2 separate regions of the Homo sapiens genome follow, and region 1 is linked to region 2. The links come from fine-mapping of genetic effects on gene expression. A gene starts in region 2. The other region holds a variant in brackets. All regions are shown on one strand. Distances are from middle to middle.

Region 1 (5,375 bases), 35 kb after region 2:
ATAGGAGTTGGTAGCCGGGTGTGGTAGGCGGAGGTTGTAGTGAGCCTGAGATCACATCACTGCACTCCAGCCTGGGCGACAGAGTGAGACTCTGGCTCGCTGCTTTCTCTCTCTCTCTCTCTCTCTCTCTCTCTCTCTATCTCTCCATATGTATATATGTGTGTGTATATATATATGTGTGTGTGTGTGTGTGTGCATATATATATATATATATATATATGCTGGATAAAGGGGTCCCAGAGTCAAGTGGAGAGATGTAGGATAGGAATATCAAATTGGGAGACATCTGTTAATAGATGACATTTAAAGATACAGGCCTCTATGATATCATTGAGAGAATGTGTGTGGATAGAGGAAAGGTCCAGGGACCTAGCCTAGGGAGCTTTTATTTAGGGCTTAGGAGATGGGAAGACAGATGGAATGGTCATGGAGGAAGGAGGAGAAAACAAGGATGCCCAAAGGAGAAAGTGGTATTAGAAGGGGAGAGGGATCAGCTCTGTCAGATGTTGCTGATCAGTTGAGTAAGTTGAGGACTGGGATGACCGTTGGTTTTGGCACTGTGGAGGTCTGTGGGCAATTTCAGTGGAGTGATGGGGATGACAGCCTAATTTCAGTAGGTTCAGGAGGGAACAGGAGGAAGGAAGTAGAGTGGTTTGGGAAGGGGGCAGAGAAAGGGGGTGGTACTGCAGGAGGATGTGGGTCAGCAGGGGAGACTGCTGTTTGCCAGGTTGTCAGCTGATTCTTCCATTTTGAAGAACGAATTACCCATTTCTGCCCCTCCAAGGAGACCTCTCATGACATCAAAACCTGTCTGTCCTCCAGGGCCACTGTCTCTGAAGCAGGGCAAACACTCCTCAGTTCTCACTCTGTAGGACGCTCCCTTTGACTCGATCCATCCCTTGGTTCATGCAGCCCTTCTTCAGCATTGACAGAGAGGAAAGAAAGCTGGATAACTTTCAGGGATATTTCATCCAGGTCATGGGGAAGCCTCAGGCACCACTCCAATAACTCTTTGCTTTTTTTCCTTGACCTCTTCCCACTTTGCAGTGTTTTCTTCACAAAGCAGCCAAAGTGATCTTTATTTTTTCTTTCTGCTTCATGTCTCCTTCATACAGAGTGATCTGTTAAAAACCAGACTATCTCATTCCCGTTTTCAAACAACAACAAACCACCACCACTTTGCAATGGCCTCAGCATGTCCTTAAGCTAAATATACTGTTCTACCCTGGCTCTCAGGCCCTGTGTGGTCTGGATTACGGCTGTCTCTGTGATTTCAGCTCTGCTACTGCTGGCCCATTCCCTGTCCTGCTTCCCCCGTTAGGTTTCTTTTGGTGAGCAGGACAAGCTCATTCCTTCCTCAGGGACCTCACATTCTGTTTACCCTGATCTGACCCTTTTTTTCTCCCTTATCTTCTGTTGGCTGACACTGCCTGACATTGAGGTCTGAGCTCCGAGTCTGGTAATTCTTCCCTGGTGACGTATCTAGAGCTGACTGCCCCAGTCAACATGACAGTACCCTTTTTTCTTCATAGCAGTTATCACTAACTGAAATGATCTTGCACACTTATTTGTTTAAAAGTCTGTTTTCCTTTTTTTTAAATTAAGATGGAGTCTCACTCGGTCACCCAGGCTGGGGTGCAGTGGCGTGATCTTGACTAACTGCAGCCTCCGCCTCCTGGATTCAAGGGATTCTCCTGCCTCAGCCTCCCAAGTAGCTGGGATTATAGGCATGTGCCACCACACCTGGCTAATTTTTGTATTTTTATTAGAGACAGAGTTTCATCATGTTGGCCAGTCTGGTCTCGAACTCTTGACTTCAATTGGTCCGCCCACTTCAGCCTCCCAAAATGCTGGGATTACAGGCACGAGCCACCACACCTGGTCTAAAAGTCTGTTTTCTATCTCCCTCCATTGGACTGTGAGTCCTCCCTGCCTTATTCTCCACTGTAATACAGTGTCTTGGTATCTGATACCTTATAGTAAGCACTCAACAAATATTCCTCAAGCATTCAATAAAGGAACAACTCCTGTCACCAAAGGGGTCTGGAACATCAAGTCCGCCACTCCACTGGATCTCAGGATAATGCT[A/C]GAAAACTGCTGCTAAAGTCTTGTGCTTTGAATTATTCCCGTTGACTAGATTCTATTCCTTTTTTAGATGATCTTGTCCTTTTTCAAACCGGTTTTGTCTGCAGTCCCTTCAGCCTTAACTCCAAGCCCTACTCTTCCACCTTTTGGTGTGAAAAGCACGTTATGAATGACTTTTGCAGAGAGCAAAGAACACCATGGATTTATTTAATTAGTTCTCTCACATTCTTGGCAGGCACCTCATTCCAGCCTCTTGTCACAAACGCAGATATGGAAAGCACCATGTCTAGTGTCTGATATTGAGAGCAGGAGCTCACAGTATACTTTTCCCCTTTGCTCCAAGCTGACCACTCAGCCTAGCACCAGAGAATGAACTATGTCTTTTACCCTGGCAGTCCAGGGAGAATGTGGCTTTGGCCCTGAGCTTTACAGCAGGTATCTGTTCAGGCCAGGCTTTTAATAACATCCATTTATTGGTCAGGCACAGTGGCTCACACCTGTAATCCTAGCACTTTGGGAGGCCAACGCCGGTGGATCACTTAAGGTCAGGAGTTCAAGACCAGCCTGGCCAACATGATGAAACCCTGTCTCTACTAAAAATATGAAAATTAGCTGGGCATGATGGCAGATGCCTGTAATCCCAGCTACTTGGGAGGCTGAGGCAGGAGGATCTCTTGAACCCAGGAGGCAGAGGTTGCAGTGAGCTAAGATCGAGCCATTGCACTCCAGCCTGGGTGACAGCAAGACTCGGTCTCCACACACAAAAATAAAATTTTAAAAGGCTGGGCACGGTGGCTCATGCCTGTAATCCCAACACTTTGGGAGGCCTAGGCGGGCGGATCACCTGAGGTCAGGCATTTGAGACCAGCCCGACCAACATGGAGAAACCCCGTCTTTACTAAAAATACAAAAAAAAAAATAGCCAGGCATAGTGGCGCATGCCTGTAATCCCAGCTACTCGGGAGGCTGAGGCAGGAGAATTGCTTGAACCCGGGAGGTGGAGATCGCACCATTGCACTCCAGCCTGGGCAACCAGAGCGAAACTCCCTCTCAAAAAAAACAAAACAAAACAAAACAAAAAACAAAATTGCATCCATTTATTATCAAGGGAGCACTCATAGCAGAACTTCACTTAGAGTCAATAGGCAATCTCTCCTGAGGTTTCCATGGGGACCTGGAGTTTTAGAGCAATTTCTGGGAAGAACATTGGAAGGAAATTGTGGGGCAAGATGTTAATACAGTCACACCGTTCTGGCACACGCTGTTTCTGCAGCCGTAAGTGACGGTTGAATCAGTTCCCACTCAAGGCCCACAGGATGCAGAGCTATGTTTGACCTCCTTGGGGCCAGATGCTGAGGAGATCTTGTCCCTGCCCCTGGAATACAGGAAAAATAAGTTCAAGTCCTTGGCCCCCGTTACAGTTTTGCATTTGCTAGTGACATACTGTGTGACCTTGGGAAAGTCACTTAACCTCTCTGGGCCTTCCTTGCCTCACCTAAGAATTATTTTGAGGCTCAAATGAGATTGTGTGTGTGTTGGCAGGGAAGAGAATATTTCATACACCGAAAGGTGAAGTGTTTTGTTGCTTTTTTTTTTTTTCTTTTTTGGAACAGAGTTTTGCTCTTGTCACCTAGGCTGGAGTGCAGTGGCACGATCTCAGCTCACTGCAACCTCTGCCTCTCAGGTTCAAGTGATTTTCCTGCCTCAGCCTCCTGAGTAGCTGGGACTATAGACACCTGCCACCATGCCTGGCTAATTTTATATTTTTAGTAGAGACGGGTTCACCATGTTGGCCAGGCTGCTCTCGAATTCCTGACCTCAGGTGATCTGCCTGCTTTGGCCTCCCAAAGTGCTGGGATTACAGGTGTGAGTCATCGTGCCTGGCCCCAGATAGCTCATCTAAGCTCTTCATGTGTATGAACTCAATCCTCAAAACAACAATATAAGGTAGATACCATTATTCTCCTCATGTTACAAATTAGGAAACGTAGGCACAGTAAAGTAAAGTGACTTATAGAAAGCCACATAGCTAGTGAGTGGTGGAGACAGGATTTGAATCTAGGCATTCCCACTCCAGGGCCTGGCTGCCATCCAATTCCCAGTTCACCCAGTTCCAAGTTCATGCCCACATTCTGTAATCAGATAATGGGTCACTAGCAAGGTGCTGTCTGTTGTAGGGCAGGAGTGGGTCACTGAGCTTCCCCATGGTCGGGATGAAGTGTCCTTCACAGCTGTCCACCTGAAGTAACTTACCCTGTAGTTACTGCAAATAAACTTTATCAATAAATGTCAAACTTGTTAAAAAGGCAAATGTCCAGAACCTCCCTGAGTGGTTCTGGTTTAGTAAGCATCCCAGTCAGGTCTCAGCGGCAGAGAACAGAAATTGCTTGCTACGTGAATCCAAAAGGCATTTGATTCAAAGTGATGGAGACGGGAAACAAACATCTAGAGAAACAGTCATTCATAGTGAAGTTCTGCTATAATTGCTCCCTTGATAATAAATGGATGCAATTTTGTTTTTTGTTTTGTTTTGTTTTGTTTTTTTTGAGAGGGAGTTTCACTGTGGTTGCCCAGGCTGGAGTGCAATGGTGCGATCTCAGCTCACCACAACTCCACCTCCCAGGTTCAAGCAATTCTCCTGCCCCAGCCTCCCGAGTAGCTGGGATTACAGGCATGCGCCACTATGCCTGGCTAATTTTTTTGTATTTTTAGTAAAGACGGGGTTTCTCCATGTTGGTCGGGCTGGTCTCAAACGCCTGACCTCAGGTGTAGCAGTCGGAGATGCACTCACTTCTAGCCTTGGTGCCCAGACCTGTGAACTCTGGCAGTACTGTCACTGGTTCAGAGCATCTACTACATCTTATGGGACAGAACCCCAGTGTCACCAGGTGGTGTCTGCCAGCGGATACTGTAGCTCAGTCTCCAATGGGCCATTCATTCTACCATCAAGAAGATCACCTACCCCTGGGGACCACGGTAAGATCAGAGCATCTGGGGGGTACCAGCATATGGACCCATTTCTTTTGCTGTGAATGGATTTGTGATCAGAAGCAATGTGGGTGTCTGGCGTTGTGGCAGTGGATGAGGCATTCATTGAGTTGGTAAGTTGCTGGCAGAAGCATGGTGATTAGGAAAAGGAAATCCATGTGTGGAAGAAGTGTTTATTCAAGGGAGGGGAAAAGTCACCTGTCTTCCATTTTGTTTTCAATTAGCAATAATCACGCCTCGGATAAACCTCATTGGCTATGATACTGCCACACGCAAAGCTCTGTCTTCCCTTTTGGAAGGGA
Region 2 (5,375 bases):
ATGATAAAGGCATAACGATAACACATAAGGAAACTCTATTCAGTACCTTACCGTATAGAAGGTAGGGTTAGGGAGGACCCTGGTTTTTGTGTCAAGAGGCTGAAGAAAGGTTATTGCCAGGCTAAACCTGCAAGGTTAGGAAGGGACCATGTTCTGAGTCTGGGGCTGGGGCAGACTCCACAAGGATGTTCTCACCACTACACCTGTCCCACTCACTTTAAATGGAGCATTTAGACCATTTACATTCAATGTTAGGATTGACTTGTGAGGTACCATTCCATTCATCGTGCTTTGTTGCCTGTGTACCTTGTTTTTTTTTGTTGTTTTTTAAATTGTATTTTTGTTGTATAGGTCCTGTGTGATTTATGCTTTAACGAGGTTCTGTTTTGATGTGTTTCCAGGATTTGTTTCAAGATTTAGAACTCCTTTTAGCAGTTCCTGTAGTGGTGGCTTGGTAGTGGCAAATTCTCTCACCATTTGTCTGAAAAAGACTGTATCTTTCCTTAATATATGATGCTTAGTTTCGCTGGATACAAAATTATTGGCTGATAATTGTTTTGTTTGAGGAGGCTAAAGATAGGGCCCCAATCCCTTCTAGCTTATAGGGTTTCCCACTCACTTTAAAGGAGAAATGTTTACCAGAGTTGTTATATAGCATAGAGGCTATGTGGAAGTTTGTATTAGGAGCTGAGAGGCAATAAAATTGGTAATTGACACAGGAACTGTGCTCCAAGTCTTTAGGATTTATCAGCTTTGAGACTGAAGAGATTGGAGAATCCAACTGTGGATGGCTAAAATCAATGTAAACATCTCAGTTTTTATAATGGGAAGTACCCTGATTAGCTAGCTATGCTCATTGCAAATATAAACAATTCAGAAGACTGTAAAGTGTAAAGACCTTGAAACTGAAAGTCCCTGATATTAATATCATTCATTCACCAGAGATAAACACTATTTTTTTTTTTTGAGACGGAGTCTCACCCTGTTGCCCAGGCTGGAGTGCAATGGCACCATCTCGGCTCACTGCAACCTCCGCCTCCCGGGTTCAGGCGATTCTCTTGCCTCAGCCTCCCGAGTATCTGGGATTACAGGCGCGCGCCTCCACGCCCAACTAATTTTTGTATTTTTAGTAGAGACGGAGTTTCACCATGTTGGCCAGGCTCGTCTCGAACCCCTGACCTCGTGATCCACCCGCCTCGGTCTCCCAAAGTGCTGGGATTACAGGCGTGAGCCACCGCACCCGGCCCTAAACACTATTTTAACAATATGGTGTCTTTTCTTCCAGACTGCCAGTAATTGAACAAAATATATGATTAACACAAAAAGGATACCATATGGACTCTTTAAACTTTTTTTTTTCAAATTTACTGTATCAGGGAATTAATATATCTTTTCGAGCCAATAGCTACAGGCCTTCCAATTTAAAAGATTAAGTTACAATAGAGTGAGATTTGGGGTGCTATCCCTTTCGGAAAGCGTCCTCGATGCGGTCATATTGGAATTAACCTCCACTCCCCTCTTCTCTGGGCTCCCGCAGACTCCAGGCTGAGTGCAGAAGCGTGGATTTTCACACCCAAACCTCTGTTATTTCAGTGTCTCACCTGGCTTCTCCACAGCGCAGAAGCTCAGCCCCTGGTTGGAAGAGCCTCCCCGCGGAGATTCACAGCAAAGCGCCATTCAGGGCCCAACTCCAAGCCCAAACCTAGCTCCTCCCCAAGCCGCCGCCAGAGACCCCTCTTCTCCCAAAGCTCACCGGGGCCCCGCCCCTGACTCCGCCCACCAGAGCCCGGTCCTCCAGTCCCGCCCCATCCCGGGCCCCACCCACCAGCCGGGCTCCGCCTACCCGGAAGCGCGCTGTCCTCCTCGTCCCGGGCTCCGCCCACCGGGAGTTCGCGCCACTCACCCCACCCCGGACCCGCCCACTTCGCTTGGGCTCCACCCTCCCAGGAACTGGCGCCGCTTGCCCCGAGCTCCGCCTACTTCGTCCCGGGCTTCCCGCGCCGGGAACTCGTGCTGCTAGTCCCGCCCTGGCCCCGCCCACCGCGCTACTGGCCCCACCACCCGGAAACTGCCCCGGCCCTCTCCCCCCGGGCTCCGCCCACCCCACGCCGGGAACCCACGCGGGCCACTACAAGCCCGCCCTTTCCTACGTCTGGTCCAGTCGGTCTTCCTCCGGCCCGGGCCCTGGCCCAGCTAGCCGGCCATGGAAGGTAATGGCCCCGCTGCTGTCCACTACCAGCCGGCCAGCCCCCCGCGGGACGCCTGCGTCTACAGCAGCTGCTACTGGTGAGGGGGCGCGGGCGCAGCCTCTGGGTCTCCCAGGCTCCCGGGCGGCGAGTCGCAACCGGGCCCCGCCTCTTCCCGGCCCCTCCTCGGGGGCGCTCCCGGCCTCTACCGGCGGGTTCTACAGTTTTGCGGGAGGAGGGAGCGGGAATGGCAGCTCTCGTCTCTTGAGTAGAGCGTGGGCTATTGGATGGGGTTGGGAATTCGTCCGGAATCATAGGGTCGATAGTGCATTACCTGTGCCTGGCGCTTGTCGGTTGGATTTGCTCAGCAGATCTCTGCTTCGGGGCCAGGAAGGGTGGAGCTCTGAAAATCTTTGGGGGTTACTCTGCTGAAGCCTGTGGGGTTTCAGACTGAGGTGAAGGTCATTTTAATTTTGTAAGAGAATGAAGGCACGGAGAGTTTTTCATACAGCACTTGCTATATGCCACGCGTTGTTCTGGGTGGTTTAGGTAAACTAAATCACTGAGCATCACAATAACCGTAAGAGGTAGGTATTGTTATCCCCAGTTGAAAGATGAGAGCACTGAAGCACAGAGGGCTGCAAGTAATTTGCGCAGGGCCACGTAGCTTGTGAATGAAGGAGTGGGGATTTACAGTCAGGGTCTGGCCCCGGAATCCACGCAGTGCACCCCTGTCCTAGGCCACCTCTGCAGCTGAAGTACCGCCCTTGCCTTAGTCCTCATACCTACTCTTTCCTGAGTAATGGCTTCTTCCCCAGCTTCTAGTCCTTGTACAGGAAACCTCAGTGCTATCTAAACCTACTCCTCCCCCTTCTGCTGGTCACTAAACCAATGCCACCAAGAGCTTAACATTTGTTCGGCCCTGATTGCATGTCAGGCTCAGTGGCAGGTGCTTCCATCGATGTCCAGGAGGTACCTTCTTTTATTATCGTTATCCTCATTTTACTAATAAAAAGACTGAGCCACAGAGAGGCTGTTCTGTGCCCCCAAATCACACATCTAGCAAGTGGTGGTGCTGAAACTGGAACCTCTTCGTGATTCTGAAGTTCATGCATCTTAACTACTGCACTATTTTTCTGTCCTGCCTCTCTTCTAAATCCCGTTAGTTCTCCTCCCTAATGTCCAGTCATTGTTTTATTCATTCATTCAATAAATGTTTATTAGGCACTTGGAGTATGTGGCATACTTCTGGGCACTGGGGATATAGCAGTGAACAAAATCGACAAATTCCCTCATGGATCCCTTGGTTCTTTCATTTTGAGAGAAAAGCAGATAAGGCCCGGTGCGATGGCTCACGCCTGTAATTCCAGCACTTTGGGAGGCCGAGGTGGGCGGATCTCTTGAGGCCAGGAGTCTGAGACCAGCCTGGCCGACATGCAGAAACCCTGCCTCTACTAAAAATACAAAAATTAGCCAGGTGTGGTGGCGTGCACCTGTAATCCCAGCTACTCGGGAAGCTGAGGCAGGAAAATCGCTTGAACCTGGGAGGTGGAGGTTCCAGTGAGCTGATGCCACTGCCCCTTCCTGCCTGGGCAACAGAGCAAGACTCCATCTCAAAAAAAAAAAAAAAATAAAAAGCCAAAAAAACAAGTAAACCATGTTTGGGTGATGTTAAATACTATGAGAAAAATAAGATAAAGGATGGTGACTTATCTTCTATTAGGATATTTTGAGAAGACATTGTTGATAAGGTGATATTTGAAAAGAGATCTGAAAAAAGAGGGTGGGAGCTTTGCAACTATTGGAGGATGGTTGTTTAAGCAGGGAGAACAGCAGGTACAAAGGCTCTGAGAAGGAATGGTGCTGTGAGTGTGATAGGAACAGTGAGGAGGCTGGTACAACTGGAGTATTGGAGTTAGAGCAGTCTTGTAGAAGAATGGTAAGAGATGACCACTCTACCACAGAGTTTCTCCATCTTGGCTTGAGTGACATTTTGAGCATGATAATTCCTTGCTATGGAGGCTGTCCTGTGTATTGCAGGACGTGTAGCAGCATCCCTGGCTTCTACCCACTAGATACTGTTAGCACCCTAGCCCTAGTTATGACAACCAAAAATGTCTCCAGACATTGCTAAGTGTCCTGTAGGGGTTGGGGGGCAAAATCGCCTCTTGCTGAGAACCAGTGCTCTACCCTGTCTGAACACATCAGGTGGGGACACCACACTACTTTGGCTCCTGCAGCTTTGGGGGTTTTTTTTTTTTTTTTTTTTTTTTTTTTTTTTTTTGAGACAGAGTCTCAGTCTGTTGCCCAGGCTGGAGTGCAATGATGCCATCTTGGCTCACTGCAGCCTCCACCTCCCAGGCTCAAGCCATTCTTCTGCCTCAGCCTCCTGAGTAGCTGGGACTACAGGCACCCACCACCATGCCCAGCTAATTTTCGTATTTTTAGTAGAGACGGGGTTTCACCACATTGGCTGGGCTGGTCTTGAACTCCTGACCTCAGGTGATCCACCTGCCTCAGCCTCCCAAAATTCTGGGATTACAGGTGTGAGTCACCGTGCCCGGCCATCCTGCAGGTTTTTTAAGTTGAAATGAATGCCTCCTGTCTACTTCTGTTAGCTTCCGTCATGTTAGCTTCCAGATGTTACTTACGCTTCAAGACCCTGCTTAATGATAATAGTGGCAGCCAGTATTTGTTTGGGACTGTGTCGTCAGCAGAGCATTTCTGATTCTGACTTAATTGTTTTGTGTTTTTCAAACAATTGTGGAGTGCCTGCTTTGTGCCAGGGGTCCTCCCCATCTGCATGCATCTCTGACCTCAGCTCATCACTGGGAACCCCTGGAGTGTCCCAACCTTTCTGCTGCCAAGATGATCAGCTGACAGCTTGGGGCAAATCCACAGCCCTCCCTCCCTCCCTCCCTCCCTTCCTTCCTTCCTTTCTTCCCTCCCTCCCTCCCTCCTTCCTTCATTCCTTTCTTCCCTCCCTCCCTCTCTCCCTTTTTTGAGTCCCTTATGCTTTTGTTTAGAGTTTAAAGAACATTTCAGATATTATCCAATCACATATTTTGTTTGAGTTTTTTTCCCTTCCAACTTTTATTTTAGATTTGGGGTTACATGTGCAGGTTTGTTACATGGGTAAAGTGTATGTGTTGGGGGTTTGGTGTACAAATTATTTTGTCACCCAGATAG

Alleles and levels. Alleles are on the strand shown, and positions count from the first base shown. SD is a standard deviation of normalised expression in the study named.
For the expression in thyroid of the gene that starts at base 2,128 in region 2, C is the high allele of the variant in region 1 and A is the other (moderate effect, 0.46 SD a copy in GTEx).

What was found.
Region 1: its variant is fine-mapped to the expression of NTAQ1 in thyroid (GTEx, PIP 0.98).

Annotation. Positions count from the first base shown.
Region 1 is chr8:123,449,755-123,455,129 of GRCh38, forward strand. It overlaps a transcript of NTAQ1 not described here and the pseudogene LOC124902105. Among named protein-coding and RNA genes, the nearest start is that of NTAQ1, 36 kb to the left of the region's middle. The variant A/C (reference allele first, on the strand shown) is at 2,089.
Region 2 is chr8:123,414,647-123,420,021 of GRCh38, forward strand. It overlaps NTAQ1 (N-terminal glutamine amidase 1), which reads left to right and starts at 2,128. Exons shown (of 6, transcript NM_018024.3): 1 at 2,128-2,286. The coding sequence starts at 2,204. It also overlaps a transcript of ATAD2 not described here. RefSeq lists silencers at 1,707-2,186, 2,297-2,496, 2,817-2,866 and an enhancer at 2,300-2,894.